Linked DNA regions of Homo sapiens. The protein of the gene in region 2 interacts with the protein of the main gene of each other region in a biochemical or structural test. Each region holds a gene or a part of one and is shown on either strand. Other genes may lie near its edges. The genes, in order: CYTH2, DOCK1 and TAMALIN.

Region 1 (8,037 bases), on a different chromosome or scaffold from region 2:
GTCGCATGTTCTTCCAGCTCCAGGTTGTCCTCAAAGCCCTGGCCCAGCTCACAACCTCACCAGCTTCATCTCCTGCCCCTCAAAGACCTCAAGCCCCATGAAAGCAACGATGGGAACTAGCTGATGGCTGTAGCGTAACTGGCTGATGGCTGTCAAGTAACTTCTAGAATGAATGCTAGACCTTGACCCTGAATCCCTGCATTCTAAACTCTGTCCCCGGCCAATTCCAACTCCAGACTCCCACCATATTAACCTTCTCCCTTTACTCCACTCCTGCTGGGCTCGGGGTGAAACCAGAACAGACCCACCGGGACAGCCCAGGCAGCACCCAGAGACAGGCGGGTCCAGGCCCCTGTCCAGGGAAACAGGCTGGCTCCACGGAGCACCTCGACTCTGTCAACCCCAAGAAATGAGGGGGTCAGCAGGCCAAGTGGTTAAATAATTAATAAGATTACCAACAGCGTGTTAATTACAAAGAACAGTGAGGAGCTAGAGGTGGTGAATTTTCCAAACAGGGAACCAGGATCCACAGCCCCAAGGCCCAGGGGTCCGGCCACCCAGGCGGGGCAGCTCCGTAATAAATAATGGAGTTGGGGGCAGGGGGTCAGGGCTGCTCCTGCTTCTTCTTGACTGAAATCCGCTTCTTTCTCGCTGCCAGCATCTCATAGAAGGGGTCCACACTCACAGCCGCCCTGCAGAAGGGGAGGGGTCCCAGGATGAGGGCCAAGGAGTCCAGGCCTCCAGCCCCTCCTCCCTCATACCCAGGAGGAGTCTCAGACCCCCGGCCCCTCCTCCCTCAGACCCAGGAGTCCAGGCCCCCGGCCCCTCCTCCCTCAGACCCAGCAGTCCAGGCCCCCGGCCCCTCCTCCCTCAGACCCAGGAGTCCAGGCCCCCGGCCCCTCCTCCCTCACACCCAGGAGTCCAGGCCCCCGGCCCCTCCTCCGTCAGACCCAGGAGTCCAGGCCCCCGGCCCCTCCTCCGTCAGACCCAGGGGTCCAGGCCCCCGGCCCCTCCTCCGTCAGACCCAGGTGTCCAGGCCCCTGCCCCTCCTCCGTCAGACCCAGGAGTCCAGGCCCCAGCCCCTCCTCCGTCAGACCCAGGCGTCCAGGCCCCAGCCCCTCCTCCATCAGACCCAGGCATCCAGGCCCCTGCCCCTCCTCCATCAGACCCAGGAGTCCAGGCCCCAGCCCCTCCTCCATCAGGCCCAGGAGTCCAGGCTCACTGGATGGACTTGATCCACTCGTCCTTCTCCTCCTGCGTGGGGGCCGAGATCCGGTACACCATGTGGTTTCCCTCCACCACTCGGCCGTCCGCCTCAGTTTTGCAGGCTTTGATGAGCTGCCCCTTGTTGTTGGGGATGTAAAGTTCAAAGCAGTTCTGGGGACGAGAGAGGAAGGGCGCAGGTAAGAACCAGCCCTGGGCAGAGGAGGCCCCGCCCTGGCAGGAAGGTGTACAGAGAGGGTCTTACCGGTTTCCGGGGGTCGTCCACCTCTCGGATGCTCAGATTCTCCAGGGGGATGATTCCTCGGGGCTCCTTGTCCTGAAGAAGCAAGGTGGACAGAACTCAGACTTCCAAGTCCTCACCCCACCCCACCTCCCTCAGCCCCAGGAGTCCAGGCTCCCAGCCACTCCGCCCAGGACCCCAGAGCCCGGGTCGGGTCACGCTCACCGTGGTGTACTCAAAGTAGTAGAGGCAGTTGTCTGTGAGGATAAACCAGCGCCGCTTCCACGTCTTCACCCGGCCCCCTGAAAGGGAAGGGGTGGGAGGGGGCCTGGGCTCAACAGGGGGACAGGGCCTCTGGGAGATGGGAGGGGCGTGAGAAGCAGAGCAAGAGCGGTAGAGGTGGGGCTCCTGGGGCCTAGACAAAGCCGCTGCGTTGGGGGAGACAGACAAGCAGGGCCAGGCATGTTGGGGCTCCAGGAATCGTCCACCCCCAGCTTGGGGCTCCACATTTTCTGAGTCTGTCAGTCCCAGCCCAGGAGCCTGAGCCCCCAGCCCCCTCCTCCTGTGGGCAGGAGGCCAGGGCGCCAGGGCGCCAGGGCAGCCCCCTCCCCTCGTCTAGTGATGGGAGACAAAGACAGGTCGTGTACCTACCTCCTGGGGCAGACAGCGAGAAAGCAGGCAGGACCAGGTGCAGGAGAAGGGAAGGCGGGAGAATGGAGCACCCCCAAGAGCCGCAGGCGACAGAAACAGGGTGGGCACAGGGAGGGGTGCGCAGGGGCAGGACAGAGAGGCAAACACAGGAGAGAGGGAAAGACGCAGAGAGGAGGGGAGGGAGAGAGAGGGAAGAAAACCAGTTACATCCACGAGGGTGGGGATGGCCGGGGCTCCTCCCTCCCAGAGAGGCCAAGGGCCATGAGCCCCGGGTGGCAGCCTTGAAAACCCCTTGCTTCGGTACAGGGCCCCAGCCTACCCCCTAGGGTCTGTCCTAGGCCAGGAGCATCCTCCCTTGACATGGTAAAAGTGCCTCTGCCCTGGAGGAGGCCCCCACAGGACAGAAGGCAAAACCCCCAGCCCTTGGTCTGAGGTGGGTGTGAGGGCCCATCTCAGCTCCTGCACAAACTGGCTGTGTGACCTCAGGGCACTCTCTTGGACTCTCTGGACTCCAGCCTGGAGACTCACTCGGGCCTACACCTTCCTGTGGCAAAATGACCTGCTGCTGGCTTCCTTGTGGGCCCAGGGTTAAACAATGACAGTAAGAATGGCTTTTATTAGGCATGGAGTAGCAACCACCATCACCAATCTCCACTCCTGTATTTCCATCTTTTAAGGAAGGGGTCCCTCTAACTGGCACAAAGGGAACAGAGGCCCTTTGGTCAGAGATGTCCCTGGGGCTGGGCAGCCTTAGGTGGGGCTCAGAACCAAACTGAGGCGTGAGCCTCTGGGAAATGGGAAAGTTACTGCTCACAGGAGCAGTTTTTGTTTTGTTTTGTTTTTTTGAGACTGTCTCGCTCTGTCGTCCAGGCTGGATTTGCAATGGTGTGATCTCGGCTCACTGCAAGCTCCACCTCCTGGGTTCAAGCAATTCTTGTGCCTCAGCCTCCCAAGTAGCTGGGATTACAGGTGCCTGCCACCACGCCCGGCTAATTTTTGTATTTTTAGTAGAGACGGGGTTTCACCATGTTGGCCAGGCTGGTCTCAAACTCCTGACCTCAAGTGATCTGCCTGCCTCAGCCTCCCAAAGTGCTGGGATTACAGGCCTGAGCCACCGTGCCTGGCCTGACAGCAGTTTTGAGGGAAGCAGTTCCTCGTGATGCTGGCGCCTTCCTGCTTCTCTTTCTGGCCCGCTCACTGCCAGGGGCACCTCGAGGACTCTCAATTTCCCCCAGCAGTCTGCCTCCCTTGGATCGAATGCAGGGATCTGGACTGGGGTGTTGGCTGGACAGTGATTTGCATGTTTTATTTTATAGAGACGGGGTCTCGCTCTGTTGCCCAGGCTGGACTGCAGTGGCGCAACCATGACTCACTGAAGCCTCGACCACTTGAGCTCAAACAATCCTCCCACATCACCATGCCTGGCTAATTTTTTTATTTTTTGTAGAGATGGGGGGTATCATTATATTGCCCAGGTTGGTCTCAAACTCCTGACCTCTAACAATCCTCCTGCCTTGTCCTCCCAAAGTGCTGAAATTACAGGGGTGGGCCCCTGTGCCCTGCCTGACTTGTGTATTTTACATTTACCAGGAAACCCTGGCATCTGTTGAGGTGGTGATGCCCTGGTTTAAGAGCACAGTTCCACATGGGGAGGCCCCCAAGACTCAGAGGCCAAAGCTGCCCTGTCCAACCTCCTTCCAAGAAGCCTGACCTTGACTCCCTTCACTGAGCTGAAAGCTTCCTGTGGGCTCTCCTGCTGCCGCGGGAAGCCTCCACTGCTGTGCTGGACTGTAACTGCCCAGATGTGTCTCTCTGGAGCAGCTGTGCACCGTGTCTCCATTATAAACCACATCTAACACGCAGGTGGCACCTACTGTTACCAGGCACGGCTCCAGGCCAGTAGCTCTCAACCTTGACTATGCATTGGGAGCACCCGAGGAGCTTAAACGATGACTGATGGCCCTTCTGCTCCTGAGAGCCTGACTTCAGGAGTCTATGGCCCAGCCACCGGAGTTTTCGAGTTGCCCAGGCAAATCTCATGTACAGCCAGGGCTGAGAACCACTCTAGTCCTTGTGCTAACCCCTCATCATGCTACGATCCTGTCTGATCCATGCTAACCGACCTTGAATGTGCCAGTGCCACGTGTTATGACGAAGACTCCCCCCTCCATCTCTGCTGGGTTTCCCGACTCATCTGCACCAGCCCTGGCTATTCCCTCCACAGCTGGAAGCCAGAATCTGGGACAGGTTTCCTGGCCTGTTTGGCTCTTTTCTGCCTGTGGGTGGTGTTTCGGGAAGGATGGCACCTGGATCAGCCAAGTGCTCTGGGCCTGATGCCTCGGAGTGCGGGGTCAGTCCTGCCTGGAACCCTGGGAGTTCTTGCCAAGGGGAATAGATTCCAGGGGTTTGGCTCCCTCGGGCTGGGTTAACGCAGTGGAAAGAAGCCTGAGTGAACTCTTCTCCCACGAAAGGACAATGTCAGCTGCCTCTCACTGCCTCCTCAGCCCAGCTCAGGGCCTGGCACAGAAGGGCTCCATCAACATTTGTGGGTCAAGAGAAGGGGTTGGGAAGTACTTACTACAGGCCAGGCCCAGCACACAGGCCTGATTTTATTTTCAGCCCCATTTTTTGGGTGTGGAAAACTGAGGTTCAGAGAGGTCGAATCATTTGCCTCAGTTCAGGCAGCAGGTGTGTGCGGAAGCTGAGTCCAGGGCCCAGGCCCACAAATGTCCTCCTGCGGAGGGACCAGCGGGGTCGGGAGGGCACGTACCCAGCTTCAGGAGCCAGCCCTCCCGGTCCGGGTTGAAGAAGGTGTGGGTCAGGTCATTCCCGTCATCCTCAGGAATCTTGAAGGGCTCATTTCGGATGCTGTCGTACAGGTTCTGAGGAGTAAAGGCTGCATTAGCCATTCGAGCCCCCTGGGGCCCCCCAGGGTTACTCAGGGTGGGGGGCAGCGAGACCAGGGATGGGATGACTCATAGTGGGGAAGAGAGAGGGGTAGTGGGGAGGAGAGGGAAGTGAAAGGCAGAGAAGTGGAGGGAGGCTGAGGTGGCGGAGGAAAGAAGAGATGCCCTGGTGATAGGTGGAGGAGCCGGCTACGTCCTCAGAGAAACAGACAGATGGGGAATGAGGCCAATCGAGGGCCGGAAAGCCCAACAGCCAGAGACAGAGAAGACAGACAGGCCAAAATTGTCAGGGCCAAAGCCTGAGAGAGACAGTCAAGAAGAGAAGCACCCAGAGAGAGAGAAAAAGATCACACACGAGTTGGCATGATCGCACCATCTTGGGGGTGAGGGCAGACAGCTTGGGCACTAGGAGACCACAGGTGGGGCGGGGGTGTCTGTGGCAGGAAGAGGGGCAGGGCTGAGGGGCAGGGAAGGGGGACTGACCCTGAGCAGCTCCTCAGGCAGGTCCCCGCCCTCGTTGATGCCCCGGTTCATGGCCACAAAGCGCTCCAGGCCCGGCTTGTCCCGGACATTGGGATTGTGGAGACTGGTGTTGAGCATGATGACGGCGAAGGACAGCACATAGCACGTGTCTGCACCGGACAGGGCAGGTGGTGACGACCCAGGCATGTCAGTCCCCAGTGCCCCCATTCCCCAGGACCCAGGATTCCCAGCTCCCAGCCCCCTCCCTCCCTCAGACCTAGGAGTCTGGGCCCCAGTCTCCTCTTTCCCAGGACCCAGGATTTGGGGCCCGCACCTGTGGACTGGAAAACCCCAGGGTTGCACAGGCAGTATCGCTGGGCGAAGGCCTCCATCATCCGGTCAATTTTCTGGGCCTCTCCGGGTAGGCGAAAGCTCCATAGAAACTGCCTGGGTTGGGGAGGGGCCAGGAATGGATGCCAGGGCTGGTGGGAGCCTGTCCCCACTCTCAGTCCCTGTGTTAGGAACTGGTCCACGAGGAATCCCGACCTTCCGGCCTCAGCAGTTGTTTCAGGTATGGTCACATGATCCAGTCTCACCAATGGGCATTGGCCACGGGAGTGTTGTGAATCCCTACAGAAATAGCCTCTTTCTGCTAAGTTCGCTAGACAGGTCTGGGGGTTGGTTGAGGCTTGTTATCAGGTAAGCGGGTCTGCAGAGAGCAATGCTGACACAGTGGCAAATACAAGAGGCAAAGAAAGTCGACTTTCTGACCACCATTTGAGCTCCTGGATATAGCCATACCTGAAGGAGGCCATAACCCTGAACTTTTATGGTGCAGGACACACTCAGTTCCCTAGTTTTTGTTTCTGTTTTGCTTGTTTCTGTTTTTTTCTTGAGTAAGGTTTGTCACTTGTAACTAGGAAGGCCCTGACAGGTACATTCCTGGCGTTCCAAACCCCTCCCCCTCACTCACCTGAGGGCCTGCACCAGATTGAGGTCGGTGAACTCATGCAGATCCACAAAAGCATGGAGCACTGCCAGGTTCAGTTCTTCCCTGGAAGGATGGGACAAAGACACATACAGTTTGGAAAGGATGGGGCAGGAATGGGCAAAGGGCAATGCCCTGGGGAAGTCGTGCCCCCTCTACTGCACCACAGCTGCCCACTGCCGAGGGTGAAGTTTCCTGCTGGACTCCCACACAGGCCTGCCCCCAGGGTGGGGGATGCTCAGAACACACTCTTGGGAGGAATATCTGGCTTGGGAACCCTGCTTAGGCCAGACCTTTGTACAGTTGGGAGAAATGCCGCAAACATGTATGCTACCTACTGTCACCTCTCTCAAATGATCCCCATGCTCCCCAGGTATCCAGACACAGCCCCCACATCCCCCAGACATCCAGAGATGCTTCCCAAGCACCCCAGATCTCTATAAATCCCTGATTCCCAGACGTCCACAGATGGCCTCCAATCATCTGATGTCCAGTCCTGTGCACCCTAGGCTTCCAAATGACCCCCACAACTCCTAAGCTCCCACAAGGGCCCAGCGGTCCCCACAGCTCCCAGATGGCCACCCAGTGCCTATGCACAGCCATGGTCTACCCACGGTTCTCAAGCTCCCATGATCCTTGAGAGATGTTCTCTACCCTTCTCAGACATAAATGGATGCTTCCCCACAACTGCCAGGTAATTCCAGAAGGCCCCACATCCCCAGATGCTCTCGGTTGGCCGCAGGCTCCCCTAGCCCATGTCAGTCCATTCTGTCACAGTCCAGTCAGAAGGCTGATCTGCCAGGGCCCCTCTGCGGGGAGGCTGCAGGGCTGTTCCACCTGTGAGCTGCCAGTGTGAGGGCAGGAGCTGGGTCTGGGGGGTGGGAGGGAGGGGCCCCACAGGAGCTGAGTGGTGACCGTACCTCTCCCCCAGGTAGTCCCCGATGGCTGTCTTGTTCAGCCCCTCGCCCTTGTACAGGAAGCGGGCGATCTCCTCGGGTGTGTTCTGCAGCAGTTCATTCTCCACCAAGAACTGGATCCCCTGGTGGGTGGGGACAAGGTCTCAGTGCTGAGGGCCAGAAAGCCACCCCACTCACCTCCCTGGGAACCTCAGCATCCAGACCTACCCCCACCCTCAACAGACCAGGGCCAGGTTTCATTTTCAGCCTTCTCACAGGTCTTAAATAGCATTCTTCCCAACTCATGGCCTTTGCACTTCATGGCCTACCCTCTCTGCCTTTGCCTGGTTAATTCCAGCACCAACAACAGGGTCTGGCAAGGCACAGGTGCTCAGTACATTTTCTCTTTTTTCTGAGACCTGGTCTCGCTCTATTGCAGACTGGAGTGCAGTGGCGTGATCACAGCTCATTGCAGCTTCGAACTGCTGGGCTCAAGGGATCCTCTCACTTCGGCCTCCTCAGAAGCTGGGACTATAGGCATGCCCCAACACACCTGGCTAATTTATTTATTTATATTTTTTCTAGAGATGAGTTATCACTATGCTGCCCAGGCTGGTCTCAAATTCCTGGCTTCAAGCAATCCTCCCTCCTCGGCCTCTCAAAGCACTGGGATTACAGGCATAAGCCACC
Region 2 (8,282 bases):
TGGACCTTTTTGGGGACCATTATTCTGCCTTCAACACCATTGTTGAGATGTGAGTGAGTGAGCACATGGTCCTCACGTGTGATTCTAGAACATACTGCATCTTTTCACCTAATCTTAGGAACAGGATCCATGGCAACATAATTTTATTGACGTCGGGACATAAAACTGCCTACTGGGCTGTGAGAGAAAAGATCATCTGGCCAGTGTGACAGCTGAGTCAAGGTTTATGCCTGTTAATATGCCAGGCCCGTAAACATGACCCACCAACTCAAAACCAAGGGGGAAACGCGGGCTGGTAAATTTCACAGGCAGCCCCCAGTGGAATGAATTGGGAGGAACCAGCATTTCCTGCCTTTGCAGAAGGAACCCCAGATCAGCTGTTTACTCCTTTCCCAATTTTACAAAATAAATATACAACTGAAGTATCTCATTTACAAACAATGCTTCTAACAGATTCCAAGTACTTGCAAACAATAAGCTGTGATTCATGTTTCCAAATGAGATGGAGTTTTATCATTTTCTTACCCCTCGTGATTCGTTCATGGGCCAAGTGGCCAGAGTGGAAGTGTGGTCCACCCACAGAGCCACCAGAGCGCCTCCAGGGAAACACAGCCCTGTTGTTAAGCTCCGAAAAATGCTGGAGTTGGTAAGGATGGTGGAGGGGTCCTCCAGTAATTTTCCCTTAGGTGGAAACAGCCAATCACCTACTGGCAATAAATCCCTACATCCCAGCACCTACATCCTTCCCAGTCAGCATCCTTCGTGAGAACCACTAAAATCCTCCCACTGCACACTTGCAGACAAGTGGGGAGCCTGGGATGGCCCCATTGCGCTCATGCTCAGCTCCCCTCCCACCCTCCCTGATGGGGGACTCTGGTTAAAGTGCCTCTGGATGCCGATGGAGTGGTGCTGTCTCATTACTGTCTACCCAGCAAGCTGTCATCTGCACCCAGTGAGAGGAAGCACAGCAGCCACTCTCTTCTCTACCTTCAGCCCTTCACATCTTTCCTAGCATTTCCTGGCAAAACCATCCCAGATACTTTTCGCCTTTTAAAATTTTCCAACAGTTTTCTATTTTTTCTTTTTTTAACTTTTTTAAATTTATTTTTTCTTAATAATCAAACATGGAGTTTTCTTAAAACCAAAGTATTAGCAAGAGGTGTGATGTTAGAAGTCACCACCATGAGCGCTGGTGAAGCTTCTGGAAGGTGTGAGACTCAAGCGCACCGCCCTGTTCTGGCCCTCAGCCTCCTCCCCAGCAAGGAGACCCCGTTCTCCCATCTACGAACATTCTTTTCAGTCTTCTCCAGACCATCCAGCTACACTATAGGATCCTAACTGACACCATCCAGGTCTCTCTGGGGGCAGACGAAGGGTAACAAGGTCTCTTAAAATGTGGCGTCCCAAAGAGAAGCCCTCCCCATCTGCAGGCAAGCACAGGACACTGTGGCAGCTGAACCCAGGGCGGCCACACTTCACACCCAGGAGGCACCACTTACTGGTGATGTGACCTCAGGCAAGCAATCCACCTCTTCCTTGCCTCTGTAGAATGGGAGCAGTGATGGCCCCCACTGCACCCCGATGGCCCCCACTACACCCCCAATGGCCACTACTGCACCCTGGCCATGGGCACCTAAGTTGCTTCCTCAGCAGGGCCAGGGCTATGGGATGCCTGCTCCTCTGCCAGCCTCCTGCCTCTCCTGCCTATCCACCTCTTCCTCTCTCTCTGCGTGTGCTGGTGCTAGGTTCCCTGGGAGTCAGTCCTCAGCTCTCTCCTCTACACACTACCCCCGCAGGGACCCCCACTGTCGCCACAACCCAAGCATTCTCAGGTGGAATATCCACCCCGAACCTCTCGCCTCTGATGCAGACTGAAGGCCCGTGCCAAGTGCCCCAGACTGAATCCATTAGGTGGTGCACAGGGTGCAGGTTACACACTGAGTCTGCAGTCAGATGAGCTCTCCTGCACTTTTGTGAATGTGTCTGGGCCTCAGTTTCCTCATCTGCAAAATGGGGAGATGGGGAGGAAGCTCAGTCATAATGGTCCTGAAGCAAGGAGGCCCCCTATGCCTCCCAGCATGTGGAACAAGCTAAGTGCAGGCCCGGTAGGACCCAGGGCTGTCCCAGGACTGTCCCCGTGACCACTGTCCAGCTGGCTCCGTGGTCAGGGCATACTGTAAGTCATTGACAGCAGAGAGAAGCAACTGTTCACAGAAAGGAGAGCGCTCCGGGGACAAGGGCTGCCAGGGCGCTTCCCAAAAGTCAGAGAGCCAGGATTCGAACCACACCAGCAGAGGGTCGGGCAGGTCCAGCACGGGCCAGGCACAGAATGGGCGCGGGGCTGCTGCTGAGACGGTGCCCTTGGAGGACACAGCCTGGGCTGTGGGAGGCGAGACCACCAAAGGTCTTCCCAGTCGGGTCGAGTGGCCTGGATGAGGCAGGCGGTCAAGGATGTCTGTGGATGGTGGGACGGGGAATAGCAAGCCCGAAAACCAACTGGGAAGATCCCGGACCCGGGAGAGCAGGAGAGTAGCCACGGCCCAGTCCCGACACCAGGCGCGCAGATCACGAAGAGGTGGGCGTCCGCAGGCCTCGGCGACCGGCTGCGGGTCCCCGGGGCGCAAGGATGCGGGTCCCACGCGGACGGGCCCGTCTATTCAGCCGCAAGGGAAAGCCTCCCTCTCAGGAATGCGCACTCGGGTCCGAAATGTAAACTTGCAACCCGACTCCTTCCATCCCCCCTCGGAAGCGACAAAGAGCCGCGGAGCAAAAACAGGCCCCCGCTCTCCCGGAAGGGTCTCCAGGCCTGGGGCCACTGGGGCGCTCGGCCGCTCGCCTTCTCTCCAAGGTCCCACACGGTCCCCAGCGAGACCGCCGAGGGGCAAGGGGCGCTGGCCACCCAGGTCGCGCCCCCTCCTCCCCGCCGGGAAAGGGCGGAATTATCCGCTGGGACCGCGCCGACCTGAGCCCGCCCACCCAGAGCCCGGACGCGGGACGCAAGTTCATCCAAGAAGCAGAAGCCGCCGCGAGACAGTGACCCCTGGGCTTCCCTGACGGGCCCAGCCGCGCAGATAGCAGCGGCCGGGGCCGGGGAGTTGGGGGTAGCCCGGGGGGCTCCACGGCAGAGGTCCAGAGGAGCGGGCGTCGGAGGGGACACCCTAGGGAGGGACGCGCCCGCCCCCATTCCCACCCCACCCCCTCGTGTTCCCGACCCGCATCCCCGGGGCTGGAGCTGACGCCGCCGGGGGCGCGGGGCGGCCGGGGTCGCCGGGCATTGCGAGCGGGGCGGCGGCGCGGGCGCGGGCGGAAGCGCCTCTCCCCGGCCCGGCGGCCGCTCGGGGCGGCGGCAACAGGCGCCCGGCACACCCGCCCCGCCGGAGCCTGGGCTTGGGGCGAGAGGCGCGGCGGCGGCGGCGCTGCTCACCCACGCCGTACTTCTCCTCGCGCTTGGTGGGCACCCAGCGCGTCATGGCGCCGCCGGAGCCGCCGCGGGTCGGGCAGGAAACTCCGCGTCTAGGCCGCCATTTTCCATTCCTTTCGAGCCGCGACAGGATGGGGAGGAAAAAGTTTGCGGCGGAGGCGGCGTCATGTGGGACGGGGCGGGCGGAGCGTCGCGGGCCGGATGGGAAAGGCCGGGAGCGCCGGCGGGAGGCGGGACGGCCGCGGGCTCTGCGCCCGCCCTCGGCGCGGACCCTGGGCCCCGACCCCGCGGTCGCCGGGGCTCCCCTTCCTCTGTCCCAGTGCGCCCAGCCCCGCGCTCCGCACCCGGGCACCCCCGCGGGGTTCTCCTGAGTTCCTGGAGCTCCCGGGGCTGGCGCTCACGCCGTGAGAGGGGTGCGCCCTTAGGGGGGCGGGACGGACGGGGGGTTTCTACGGGAGGTAGGAAACGGGCGGCTTGCAAGGCGCGGGCTTAGGCCGGAGCCTGGTGGTGCGAGGTCCCCAGCTCGGATTTCTCCCTGGTGGAGAGTCCCGGAGCAGAACAAACCAGCAGAGGCTCTGGAAAGGGTCCTCCTGAGCACGTGGCTCATTCATTCATTCGACAAACGTTACCTGAGCGCCTGCCCACTCATTGCCCGAGTGTGCTGGGAGCGCCGCACCAACTGCCTGGTAGGTGGGAGAAGGGACACGTCAGGTAACAAACAGCACAGGTAAGTGCCGGCCACTCAAATGGGGTGGAAAGAGGTGGCACAGCGCTGCCGAGGGAGTGCGTTCCAGACAGGTGACCTCTTGCTTGGGTGCTGAATGAGTGGAGTTTTCCAGAGAGACCAAGAGGAAGCAGCCGCAGAAACCTCAGCCCAGCTGGGCTTGCAGAAGCTAATGCTAGAATAGTTGTGGGACTCAGGATCTGCTGAAGTCGGGGGAAGAGAGAAGTAGGGAAAGGAAAGCCCAGGCCACGCGTGGGGCTCAGGAACGGCATCCTCGCCCGAGGTGGGAGTTCTTCTCAGGCCCTGGTGTTTCCCATGACAGTAAAAGGTGGGGGCTTCAGATTTCTCCAAGGGAAAAGTTAAAGCAACACACACCTATTTATTTTTACTGTAATTTCAGAAAAGAGAGGTTAAAACCAAGACATGGACAAAGCCTCCGAATGAAGGCAGCCCTTTAAATGGAATAAATTTGGTTTCATGGCACATTAATGGGGTGTCTTCTCTCCGAAGACACAGAGACAACTACAGTAGGTCTGGGGGCCGTCAGGGATTGGAGGAACGAAGGTAAGAAAAGGAAGAAGGTAAGAAAAAGAGGTCCCTACCTCTGTGAGGTAGGGACAGTGCTGAACAGCAGGGCTGGGAGAGCCCACAGGGAGGTGGCCAGGATGGCCACAGGGCCTGGGGAGGACCAGGTGGGGCACCATCCTGCGGTAGAGAATGCCCGTCACCTGCCCTAGGGGCCACCCAGAATGCAGATTAAATAAGTATTTGGGAATGGCACAGGAGCTTTTCCATTTTCGTGGGTTAGAGGAAAGCTGCTGCGTTCAAGAGGATAACGTGGGACCTGAGCATTCTGGTAAGTCAACCCCACATTCATGGAAAGCCACGGGCTCTGTTTTACTGATAAGGAACTGAAGTCCCACAGAGGAAGTGGCCAGGCTCACTCACACACAGCATGCACTTGAAGCTTTCTGTGGAAATCAGAAACCTCCGGGGCTCAGGCGCTGTAGTGGTGGCCTGGTGACTCTGACCCCTTGAAGGAGAAGCATCTGTGAAGGTGCTGTCCAGGACAAGTAGGGTGCTCTACGGTAAAGGACATGGTGGCCTGACCTGCTCCAGAGCAGGGAGGCCTCCCTTGAGGAAATAAGATAAACCCAGACTTTAAGGATAAGCAGAAACCAGCTAGGTGAACTGGAGTGGGAACAGCACGTGAAAAGGCCCTGGTTTAGGAAGGAGCACCACTCCTTCAGAGCACAGAAAGGCCAGGATGGCCGAAGCATAGGGAACAACAGGAAAGTGACATAAATTGAGGCTGCAGAGGTAGAAGAAGGGCCTTATTGGTCGTGCTAGGAATTTGGAATTCTGCAAAGAAGCCTGGGAAACAGATTTTGGTGACACTCGCCTTCTCTTTAATGTGCAGTTTCAGTTCTGTTGGTGTGATTCTGCATTGGAGATGGCGTGCTGTAACGAATGGCCAGGAGCTTAAGAGTCATGCAGACTTGGGAGGCCTGGCCTTGCCACGCCCAGCTGCATGGCCATCCTCCTCCTGTTTCTGGCCGTTCTGTTTCTAAACCTTGGGGTTCTGATATTCCTACATGTAAACTAGGGGCTGTAATAGGAATCTCACAGGTGAGTCTTAGGATTATAAGAGGAGACATGACTGCATGTGTAAGACATCATAATGATGTGCTTCCTCATCTGACCCTACCTCCAGGTTCTTTGATAACCTCATGGTTCCCATTTTCTAGAACAGTTGCCACTTGCACTCAGATAAAGGTGACTCACTGAATGCATAAATAAGTGTAGTGCCGGATTTGCATACTTTTGGTAGACTGTCATATAATAAATTTATAAATCAGAATTTTAAAACTCCAGGTGGGGCCGGGCACAGTGGCCCATGCTTGTAATCCCAGCCAGCATTTTGGGAGGCTGAGGCAGGCAGATCACTTGAGGTCAGGAGCTCGAGGTCAGCCTGGCCAACCAGGGTTTTAGTAGAAACCCTGTCTGTACTAAAAATACAAAAATTAGCTGGGCGTGGGTGCGCATACCTGTAGTCCCAGCTACTCAGGAGGCTGAGGCAGGAGAATTGTTTGAACCCAGGAGGTGGAGATTGCAGTGAAGCAAGATCGCACCGCTGCACTCCTGCCTGGGTGACAGAGTGAGACTCCATCTCAAAAACAAACAAAACAAAACTCCAGGTGGACCACGGGCCAGGTGGTTGTAGCTTCAGTCCCTTGATTGCAACATGTGCCCAAGTTTGGCTGAGATGTACCTGTAGCCACGGTCCTTGAAGCCCTGAGAAGATTTGTCAGCATCCCCACGGTGCTCCAGCAGTGCTCTCATCTTGTGGCTCTAAATCGAGTCCATGGCCCTCTCTCACTGTCCTATGGTTGCATAAGCTCAGAACTGGCTTCGTCTCCAATTCCAGGAGCCCTGGAGGTTGTGGCCTGTTGACATTTTTACCTCCTGAGTCAATGTGGCTGGGCCACAGGTCTCAGTTGCCCTCCCAGGCATCTTGCAGGACTTGGATCTGTGCCAAGCTTGTGGGTGTGAACAAGCCCAAGAATGCTGAGGCTCTCAGTTGCTCAGTGCTGCCCATCACTGGGATTTCAGAGTAGTGACCCCCCTCCTCCAAGATACAACAGAATCTTGCTTTGGGGCCATGAAGAACACAATCAATATTACAGTTTTAAATCTTGAAAAGTACAGTTTTAATTTTTTTAATTCCAAAAAATTTCACACATGTGCACTGCAAATTCAGGAGGTAAATTCAGCAAAATCTTGCCTGGTGGAGGTACCAGAAGGCACAGTGAGTCAATGGGGCATGTTTCTCAGTCGGTGGGGAGAGATGAGAATGGAACAGGGATGTGGAGATTTTATGCAGGAAAAGGGGCCTGACCACAGATTTTTTGCCCTTTGAAAGGAGAGGAACAAGGCCTATGCCCACTGCCTCTTGGATTCAGTGGGAGATCTGGGCATCATACTGGATGACCAGGCATGTAGTCACAATGCACAATGCCACCCAGCCCAAAAGTGTATATTCAAGACTTTAGACCCAACTTCGTGCTTACAGGAAATAGAGGAGGTTGAGGAACAAGTGACACCATAAGAAATACAGTGAAACAGGCCAGGCACCGTGGCTCATGCCTGTAACTCTGAGCACTTTGGGAGGCCGAGATGGGCAGATCACCTGAGGTCAGGAGTTCAAGACTAGTCTGGCCAACGTGGTGAAACCCCATCTCTACTAAAAAAAAATATCTGGGCATGGTGGCAGGCACCTGTAATCCCAGCTACTCAAGAGGCTGAGGCATGAGAAGCACTGGAACCCGGGAGGCCGAGGTTGCAGTGAACAGAGATCGTGCCATTGCACTCCAGCCTGGGGGAACAAGAGTGAAACTCCATCTCAAAAAAAAAAAAAAAAGACACTGAAACAAAGCCAGAAGGTAGAATATTCTTTCAGGTAGTAGTCTGGTCTCTTCAATAGTCAATATTATAGAGCAAGAAGGGGCCAGTGGAGAAGAGCTGTTCTAGATTTTAAAAGATGTAAGAAATACAACATTTGGCCGGGCGCGGTGGCTCACGCCTGTCATCCCAGCACTTAGGTAGGCCGAGGTGGGCGGATCATGAGGTCAGGAGATCGAGACCATCCTGGCTAACATGGTGAAACCCCGTCTCTACTAAAAATAGAAAAAATTAGCCGGGCATGGTGGCATGCACCTGTAGTCCCAGCTACTCAGGAGGTTGAGGCAGGAGAATGGCGTGAACCCGGGAGGCGGAGCTTGCAGTGAGCCGAGATCGCGCCACTGCACTCCAGCCTGGGTGACAGAGCAAGACTCCATCTCAAAAAAAGAAAAGAAAAGAAATACAACATTTAAATGCACTGTGTTATCCTTAATTGGAAACTGCTTTAATTATCCAACACTAAAAAAATGTCAAGGGCAAGAGGTGGTTTGAACTATGGACTGGTGTTAGATGATGTATTTTTTTTATTTTGTTAAGTATAATAATAGTTGTTATGGTTAGGTGGGAAAAGATCCTTAAATTTTAGAGCTGCATGCTGGAGTATTTAGAAGTGAACCGTCATTGTATTTGTTATTTAAAATACTACAGGAATAAACAAGATGAAGCAAAATTGCT
Region 3 (7,481 bases), on a different chromosome or scaffold from region 2:
ACCAACACCCAGCCCCTGCCATGGTCCAAAGGGGTGAGGTGCTGGGTTGGGGGGTGCCAGGACAGCATCTCAGCCTAGCGAGGGTAGTCATTCTCCTAGCCTTTAAACATGGCTCCCCCGCTGGGAGTGAGGGCAGGTGGGGGTGAGGGCTGTGTGAAGGGGGTGGCAGAGAAAGGAGGTAGGGACTTTTGAGTCATTAGGTGCTCTTCAACACACCCCCAGTCCCTGCCAGTTACCCCTCCCTGGGGAGATCTGGATGAACGGATGTGGGAGTTGGGAGGGGGTGTAGGCAAAGTCTATGGGGAACGTCCTAACCCAGGCCTCCTGGGCTCCCCTGAGCCCTCCTAGCCTTGGCAAACCCCACGGGCCCAGACCTTAGCCAGGCTGTGTCCAGCTGCTTGGGGCTGGCTGCCCCTGCCTCCAGAATGTCAGTCCTCTTCTGGTCCCAGCCTGTGGCAGCCCTCTTAGGAGGGATCTGAGCGTGGGCAGAAGTAGGTGCTGACTCCAGGCCCTGGGACCCCACAGTTTCCCTTCTCTACTCATGTCCCATCCCTGATTTGGGCTTGACTTTCTCTAAAATGGATCAGCAAACTGACCTGCTAGCCAGATTGGCCTGTTTGGCCCTTGAGCTAATAATTTTTAAAGAGTTGTAAAAATAAAAACAAATAACAATATATGACAGAGATCATAAGGGGCCTGCAAAGAAAGCCTAAAGTATTTACCATTTGGCCCTTTGCAGAAAAAGTTTGCTGACCCTTCCAAAAAACCCTAGAACATTGGGGTAGACGCGGAACTCCCAGCCACCCTGCTCCCTGCCCCAATAGTACAGAGAGGGGAAAGGCCTGCTGTTCAGAGTGAGAGGGGCTCGAGCTGGAGTGGGGAGGTGCTGCTCAGCATTTGGGGGAATCTCTGGGTCAGGCTGGAAGCGGAGAAGCCTGGTCTCCAGGGCCTTTCCGAGGCTGAGCTACTTGAAGGGGCCTTTGGAGGCTGCTTTAACTGTGCCTCTGGCTGGGCGGGAAGGAAGGGGGTGGGAGTGGGCAGAGGAAACTCTGGGCTCCCCCAGCAGGCGAGGATCTGGAGCAGCTCCAGACCATTGTGTCCAGCGGGCAGGCCTTCAGTGCGGGAAGGGGCGGCCTCGAGGCTCCCCTCCCCCAGCCCCCACATCTGGTGGGCTGGCCCCAGCATAGCTGGGAGGAGCAGCTGTGGTCTTGCTGAGCCTCGTGACTGGCCTCTGGGGGTGGGGCCAGTCCTCTCTCCAAAGCTGTGGAACAGAGGAGGCTCCAGGCTGTGGCTGAATTTCGGGCCTTAGCTAGTCAGTAAGTGGTACTGTAGGGCTCACTGGAAAGCTGGGATGGGGCTAAAAAACTCAGCCGGCTCATCCTTCAGGGGACCGGCCCTTCTCTGTGCTTCCCTCCCACCACTAGAGGCTGGATTGGTTCTCTGTGGCTCCATGAGGCTGATTTCAATTGGGTATGGGAAAGACATTCCAATAATCTGTGATGAGACTGAGCTGTCACTGGAGACAGAGTCCTGCTGGAATGTTCTAGACCAGTTGCCAATATCCAGGGAGGCCCAAGCTATGGGACTTCTACACCTTTTAATCCTAATTGTCTTGACCCCTGTGTCTCTTGCAGGAAAGTGCTGACGTTGGAGAAGGAGGATAACCAGACCTTCGGCTTTGAGATCCAGGTGGGAGAAGCTGCACACAGGGGTCAGGGGGGTTGGATGACCAGCCTGAGGGATGAACGGACTTGTCCCAACCCTGGGCTGAGGGTCCCCTTGTCCATTACAGACTTATGGCCTTCACCACCGGGAGGAGCAGCGTGTGGAAATGGTGACCTTTGTCTGCCGAGTTCATGAGTCTAGCCCTGCCCAGCTGGCTGGGCTCACACCAGGTGGGGCCTGAGCCCAGGACACCCAGGTCTGGGAAGGGGATATGACCTTACTCCCAAGCAAAGGGGGTGAGCAATCTCTCCTGAAATCAATTCCTCTTCCTTTTCCTTCTTTGAGAAGGCCAGAAAGAAGAATGGATAGAATCTGGGCTTTGGATCTAGGCAAATTTGCCATGTACTGTGTGATCTTGCACAGCCCCATCTACAAAATGAGGGTAATAATGCATCCAAACATCACAGTGCGGCAAGGGGATTCCCTGGGCACACTGCCAGGGCCTAATTAATGGTGGATGATGCTGCTGCTGCTCTGATTCCTCCCAGCAACCCTGGCAGTCAGCATGGGCAGGAGCCAGGGAAGAAGCAACATTCCATTAAGTCTGTTTGATATTGGGGATCAGGCCAATCCTGCCCCAAAATGGGCCCAGTGCTGAGGAACCGATGTTACTCCCTTTTAAAAAATTAGAAACTTTTTTTTTTTTTAAGAGACAGGGCCTCAGTCTGTCACCCAGGCTAGAGTGCAGTGGCGTAATCATAACTCACTATAACCTTGAACTCCTGGGCTCAAGCGATCCTCCTCTTGCCTCTGCCTCCCAAAGCAATATGTTACTTCCTCTAACAAGGAAATTATGCTTCAGCAGGAGATCCCTGGATTGAGCAGATCTAGAGTCCCCAGGTTCCAGGAAGGGCAGCCTGAAACTGTATGAATCAATCCCCCCTCCACCATCTTTGCCCCTAAGCCCCTACCTCCTTCCCACTTACCAGCAGCCCGTGCTAGCTATCTTAGTCCATTTTCTGTTACCATAACAGAATACCTGATACTGGGTAATTATAAAGAAAAGAGGTTTATTTAGCTCATGGTTCTGGAGGCTGGGAAGTTCAAGACTGGGTGGCCGCATCAGGTGAGGGCCTCATGCTGCGTTCTGACATGATGGATGGCATCTCATGGCAGGAACGCCTGCAAGAGTGGTGAGTAGGCACACGCAAAAGAGACAAAACATGGGTGATCTTGCTTTATAGCAACCCACTCGCCAGGTAACTAAACCAGTCCTACCAGAGCAAGAACTCACTCCCCAAAAACAGCATGGATCCCTTCACTGGGCAGATCCTTCATGGCCCAAATGCCACTTTTTTTGAGATGGAGTTTCGCTCTTGTTGCCCAGGCTGGAGTGCAATGGCATGATCTCAGCTCACTGCAGCCTCTGCCTCCCAGATTCAAGCAATTCTCCTGCCTCAGCCTCCCGAGTAGCTGGGATTACAGGCACTGGCCACCAAGCCCAGCTCATTTTTGTATTTTTAGTAGAGATGGGGTTTTGCCTTGTTGGCCAGGCTGGTCTCGAACTCCTGACCTCAGGTGATCCACCCGCCTCGGCCTCCCAAAGTGCTGGGATTACAGGTGTGAGCCACGGCGCTCGGCCCCAAATGCCTCTTAAAGGTCCTACCATCTCTCAGCACTGTTACGTTGGGGATGAAGCCTCAACATGAGTTTTGGGGACAAACAATATTTAAATGGTAGCAGTAGCCAAGTGGTATACTACAACTTCTCAAAGTAGTTTCAAATCCACTCTCCCTCCCCATCATCCCTGAAGCATCCACAGCAGGGATCCATACCCCTTTTTACAGATAGGAATGGGGCCCTGACATGGGGCACACTGTGCTTGAGGTCAGGAAGCTCTCCAGTGGTGCAGGGTAGCAGAACTATCCCTCTGGGGGCCAGTCATTCCCTGTGCTTCTCTCCCACCACCAGAGGCTGGACTGATTATCTGTGGATCCATGAGGCCATGCCATGCCTGGGGCCAGGGTCGGTTCCCAGCTGGGTGCTGCTCACCTGCTCTTCCCTGAATTGACTGGGTCTTATGGCCAGCGTGGACTGGACAGAAATAACCAAATCTGAGGGTAGCCCAGGGTCCTGGGTGGGCTTAGCTTTGGGACAGAACTTCTTTTTTTTTTTTTTTTTTTTGAGACGGAGTCTCGCTCTGTCGCCCAGGCTGGAGTGCAGTGGCGCGATCTCGGCTCACTGCAAGCTCCGCCTCCCGGGTTCACGCCATTCTCCTGCCTCAGCCTCCCGAGTAGCTGGGACTACAGGCGCCTGCTACCACGCCCGGCTAATTTTTTGTATTTTTAGTAGAGACGGGGTTTCACCGTGTTAGCCAGGATGGTCTCGATCTCCTGACCTCGTGATCCGCCCGCCTCGGCCTCCCAAAGTGCTGGGATTACAGGCGTGAGCCACCGCGCCCGGCCGGACAGAACTTCTTGAGGGCAGAGTGAGGGTGTTGGGTGTGTGAGGTCCCCACCCTTTGGCTGGGGTGCTGGGCGTGGACAACCTGGTAGTCACTACAGGCCCACAAGAATGGCTGTGGTTCTGTGTGTTTGGATCGAGTATGAGAGATGTCAGAGGAGATCTACAGAGAACCATGAGGAGTTGGAGGAGGGAGTTCAGGAGTATTCCCTGGAGTTACTACCCACCCTTCTCCCCTTTCTGGCTAAGGTAGGAGGCTGGTATTCTAGCATGCCCCATGGAGCAAATCTAACCCCCTTGTCTGCCTGGCAGGGGACACCATCGCCAGCGTCAATGGCCTGAATGTGGAAGGCATCCGGCATCGAGAGATTGTGGACATCATTAAGGCGTCAGGCAATGTTCTCAGGTATGTCTGGGAGCCGAGGTGCCTGAATTCCTGAGCTCAGCCTCTTGGTATTTCCTCAGCCTGTGGCTCACTCAGGCTTTGATTCTCCAACCTCAGACTGGAAACTCTATATGGGACATCAATTCGGAAGGCAGAACTGGAGGCTCGTCTGCAGTACCTGAAGGTAGGGGAACCTAGATAACGTCCAGCCTCCACCCTCCTCTTCCCAAGCCTCTGCCCTGTGGGGGGTCACTTACAGCTGAATCTCCTGTAACTGAAGATTTCTTTTGTCTACTCCCTGATCCCTCGTCTGTACCCACGTCCTGCTAGTTTCCTGCTAGCTTGTGACAGTGGGGTGGGGACTGTCTCTTGCAGCAAACCCTGTATGAGAAGTGGGGAGAGTACAGGTCCCTAATGGTGCAGGAGCAGCGGCTGGTGCATGGTGAGTAGATCCCGGGGTGTGAGGGGCCACTTGTTCTGCTACAGACACCCCATCTGCGCTTCCCCCTCAGAACTGGCGGGTTCTAGTAAAGAACGGTTTACTAGTAAACCTCCACAGTAAAGCAAGGTTTGTTGAGCTACTACTACTTTGGGTACTGCCGCAGCCACATTTCTGGTTATTCTCACACTAGCCCTCTGCAGGTAAGTAACAGATAGTGTCATCTTCACTTTACAGAGGGGAACACCAGGGCTCAAAGAGTTTGTGTCAATTATTTCCGAGGCCCGTTTGTGCTAAGCGGCCCCCATAAGGATCTGAGTGATAATTCCTGATTTGCGGGTGAGGGAAGTAGGGTCTCAGGTTTGTGCCTGGCCAGGGCCACAGAGATGGTCAGCAGGACGGAGCGGGGACGCCCCGCCCATGCCCTCCGACCCTTTGCAGAGGCCACCACGGTCCAGGCCTGACCCGCCCCCTACCTCTCCCGTCTCTGCGCAGGCCTGGTGGTGAAGGACCCCAGCATCTACGACACGCTGGAGTCGGTGCGCTCCTGCCTCTACGGCGCGGGCCTGCTCCCGGGCTCGCTGCCCTTCGGGCCTCTGCTCGCCGTGCCCGGGCGTCCCCGCGGAGGCGCCCGACGGGCCAGGGGCGACGCCGACGACGCCGTCTACCACACGTGCTTCTTCGGGGACTCCGAGCCGCCGGCGCTGCCGCCCCCGCCGCCCCCGGCCCGCGCCTTCGGCCCGGGCCCCGCCGAGACCCCTGCCGTGGGGCCGGGCCCTGGGCCGCGGGCCGCGCTGAGCCGCAGCGCCAGTGTGCGGTGCGCGGGCCCTGGCGGGGGCGGAGGCGGGGGCGCGCCGGGCGCGCTCTGGACTGAGGCTCGCGAGCAGGCCCTATGCGGCCCCGGCCTGCGCAAAACCAAGTACCGCAGCTTCCGCCGGCGGCTGCTCAAGTTCATCCCCGGACTCAACCGCTCCCTGGAGGAGGAGGAGAGCCAGCTGTAGGGGCGGGGGCGGGCAGGGAGGTATTTATTTATTTATTCGCAACAGCCAGCGCTAAAAGAGGGGGAGGCCGAGCCAAGAGGACCCCAGGAGCCCAGAGCAGCGGGAGAGGGTCCTTCCTAGCCTCGGCCCGCCGGGTCGGTTCCTGGCTGGTGTCTGCTGAGGGAGTGGGGGGCCCAGCCCCTTCTCTTCTCCCCCGCCAAACCACAGTGGGAGCTGGGGCAGGGGGAGAGCCAGGCAATCGGGGGCCAAAGATGGGGGTGCTCGCCTACAGTCTGCATCTGTAGTGCCTTGTGGGGTATCCAGGAACACCCTCCCAGCAGGGGATGGGAACCCTGTCCCATGAAGCCCTCTCCTCAGCTTTACTTGCTCCCCCGCCCTTAGCCTTGGGGAGAAATGGCCCGTGGTGGGCTGACCCCCCACCCTCCACACACACAGTTCCATGACCCAGCGGGCCCCCAGGGGCATCAGGTGCTGGTCCTCCTCCCTCCTGGCCTCGACCCCTAAGGGCTTCGCCCCTCCCAGGGGCCTGTAACTAAGTCGGGTCCTGCCAGGCAGGGGGCCTGTGTTCTGTGCCCCTTGGGAGACAGGAACTGGCGAGTTCAGGTGGGGTGGGGACAGCACAGACTGTTCCACCGTTGTGCATATTGTTGCTTCTGAACCACAAACTGTATAAATGGATGGTTTTTTGCATCTGTGTCAGTGTGGTGACTGCCTGAGGGGGAGGATTGGGCTGGGGCAAGCTCTGACTCCACCATCCCAACCCCCGCCCAACGCACACACATCTTGTTTTCTTGCAGCCTGAAGCCAGGGAAATAGGCTGGGAGATTTAAACTTACATGTATGGGCCTGAGCTGGAGGCCCCACGCTTCTTCACAACTTGAGCCTCCCTCCCCAGATACCCAAGCAGGTGGTGACCAAGGCTTGCCTCAAGTCCTTAGCCATCCCTGTAGAAATACGTGTGCTTGGCATGCCTTTCTTCCCAGCTTCTGAGGTCTCCCTTGAGGGGCACAAGCCAGATCTGTAGGGACCTGAGGCATTACCACCTGGCCTGTGAGGGGCCCAATCACGGCTCACTCTGTTGTTCTAGCAGTCTTCAGCGGTTTCCCACCCCAGGATGAGATTTTTCTTTTTTGAGATGGAGTCTCCCTCTGTTGCCCAGGCTGGAGTGCAGTGGCCCGATCTCAGTTCATTGTAACCTCTGTCTCCTGGATTCAAGTGATTCTCCCGCCTCAGCCTCCCGAGTAGCTGAGGTTACAGGCAGGCGCCACCACACCCAGCTAATTGTTGTATTTTTAGTAGAGACGGGGTTTCACCATGTTGGCCAGGCTGGTCTCGAACTCCTGACCTCAGGTGATCTGCCTGCCTTGGCCTCCCAAAATGCTGAGATTACATGCGTGAGCCACCGCGCCCGGCCTCCCAGGATGAGAGTCTGACCCCTGCCGGCCTCTGCTTCTTACTCCCCGCTCTGGCTGCGCTGCTGGCTGTACCTGGCACACTTCAGACCCCTTCTATCAGGGTCTGTGCTCTT

Evidence for each region.
Region 1: the proteins of DOCK1 (region 2) and CYTH2 form a complex in vitro, tested with the Homo sapiens proteins (one study listed by BioGRID).
Region 3: the proteins of DOCK1 (region 2) and TAMALIN form a complex in vitro, tested with the Homo sapiens proteins (one study listed by BioGRID).

The regions. Positions count from the first base shown.
Region 1 is NC_000019.10:48,471,778-48,479,814, reverse strand, and holds part of CYTH2 (cytohesin-2), read right to left. Parts: intron 7,491-8,037; coding exon 7,372-7,490; intron 6,518-7,371; coding exon 6,437-6,517; intron 5,911-6,436; coding exon 5,798-5,910; intron 5,634-5,797; coding exon 5,485-5,633; intron 4,978-5,484; coding exon 4,866-4,977; intron 2,099-4,865; coding exon of another isoform or gene 2,096-2,098; intron 1,747-2,095; coding exon 1,670-1,746; intron 1,541-1,669; coding exon 1,469-1,540; intron 1,378-1,468; coding exon 1,223-1,377; intron 693-1,222; coding exon 605-692; 3' UTR 1-604. UniProt on the Homo sapiens protein: Acts as a guanine-nucleotide exchange factor (GEF). Promotes guanine-nucleotide exchange on ARF1, ARF3 and ARF6. Activates ARF factors through replacement of GDP with GTP.
Region 2 is NC_000010.11:126,900,706-126,908,987, reverse strand, and holds the start of DOCK1 (dedicator of cytokinesis protein 1), read right to left. Parts: upstream 3,561-8,282; 5' UTR 3,471-3,560; coding exon 3,425-3,470; intron 3,258-3,424; exon of another isoform or gene 1-3,257. UniProt on the Homo sapiens protein: Involved in cytoskeletal rearrangements required for phagocytosis of apoptotic cells and cell motility. Along with DOCK1, mediates CRK/CRKL regulation of epithelial and endothelial cell spreading and migration on type IV collagen.
Region 3 is NC_000012.12:52,009,247-52,016,727, forward strand, and holds the end of TAMALIN (protein TAMALIN), read left to right. Parts: intron 1-1,245; exon of another isoform or gene 1,246-1,316; intron 1,317-1,634; coding exon 1,635-1,689; intron 1,690-1,792; coding exon 1,793-1,895; exon of another isoform or gene 1,896-1,936; coding exon of another isoform or gene 1,937-1,961; intron 1,962-4,440; coding exon 4,441-4,534; intron 4,535-4,630; coding exon 4,631-4,697; intron 4,698-4,888; coding exon 4,889-4,955; intron 4,956-5,447; coding exon 5,448-5,953; 3' UTR 5,954-6,643; downstream 6,644-7,481. UniProt on the Homo sapiens protein: Plays a role in intracellular trafficking and contributes to the macromolecular organization of group 1 metabotropic glutamate receptors (mGluRs) at synapses.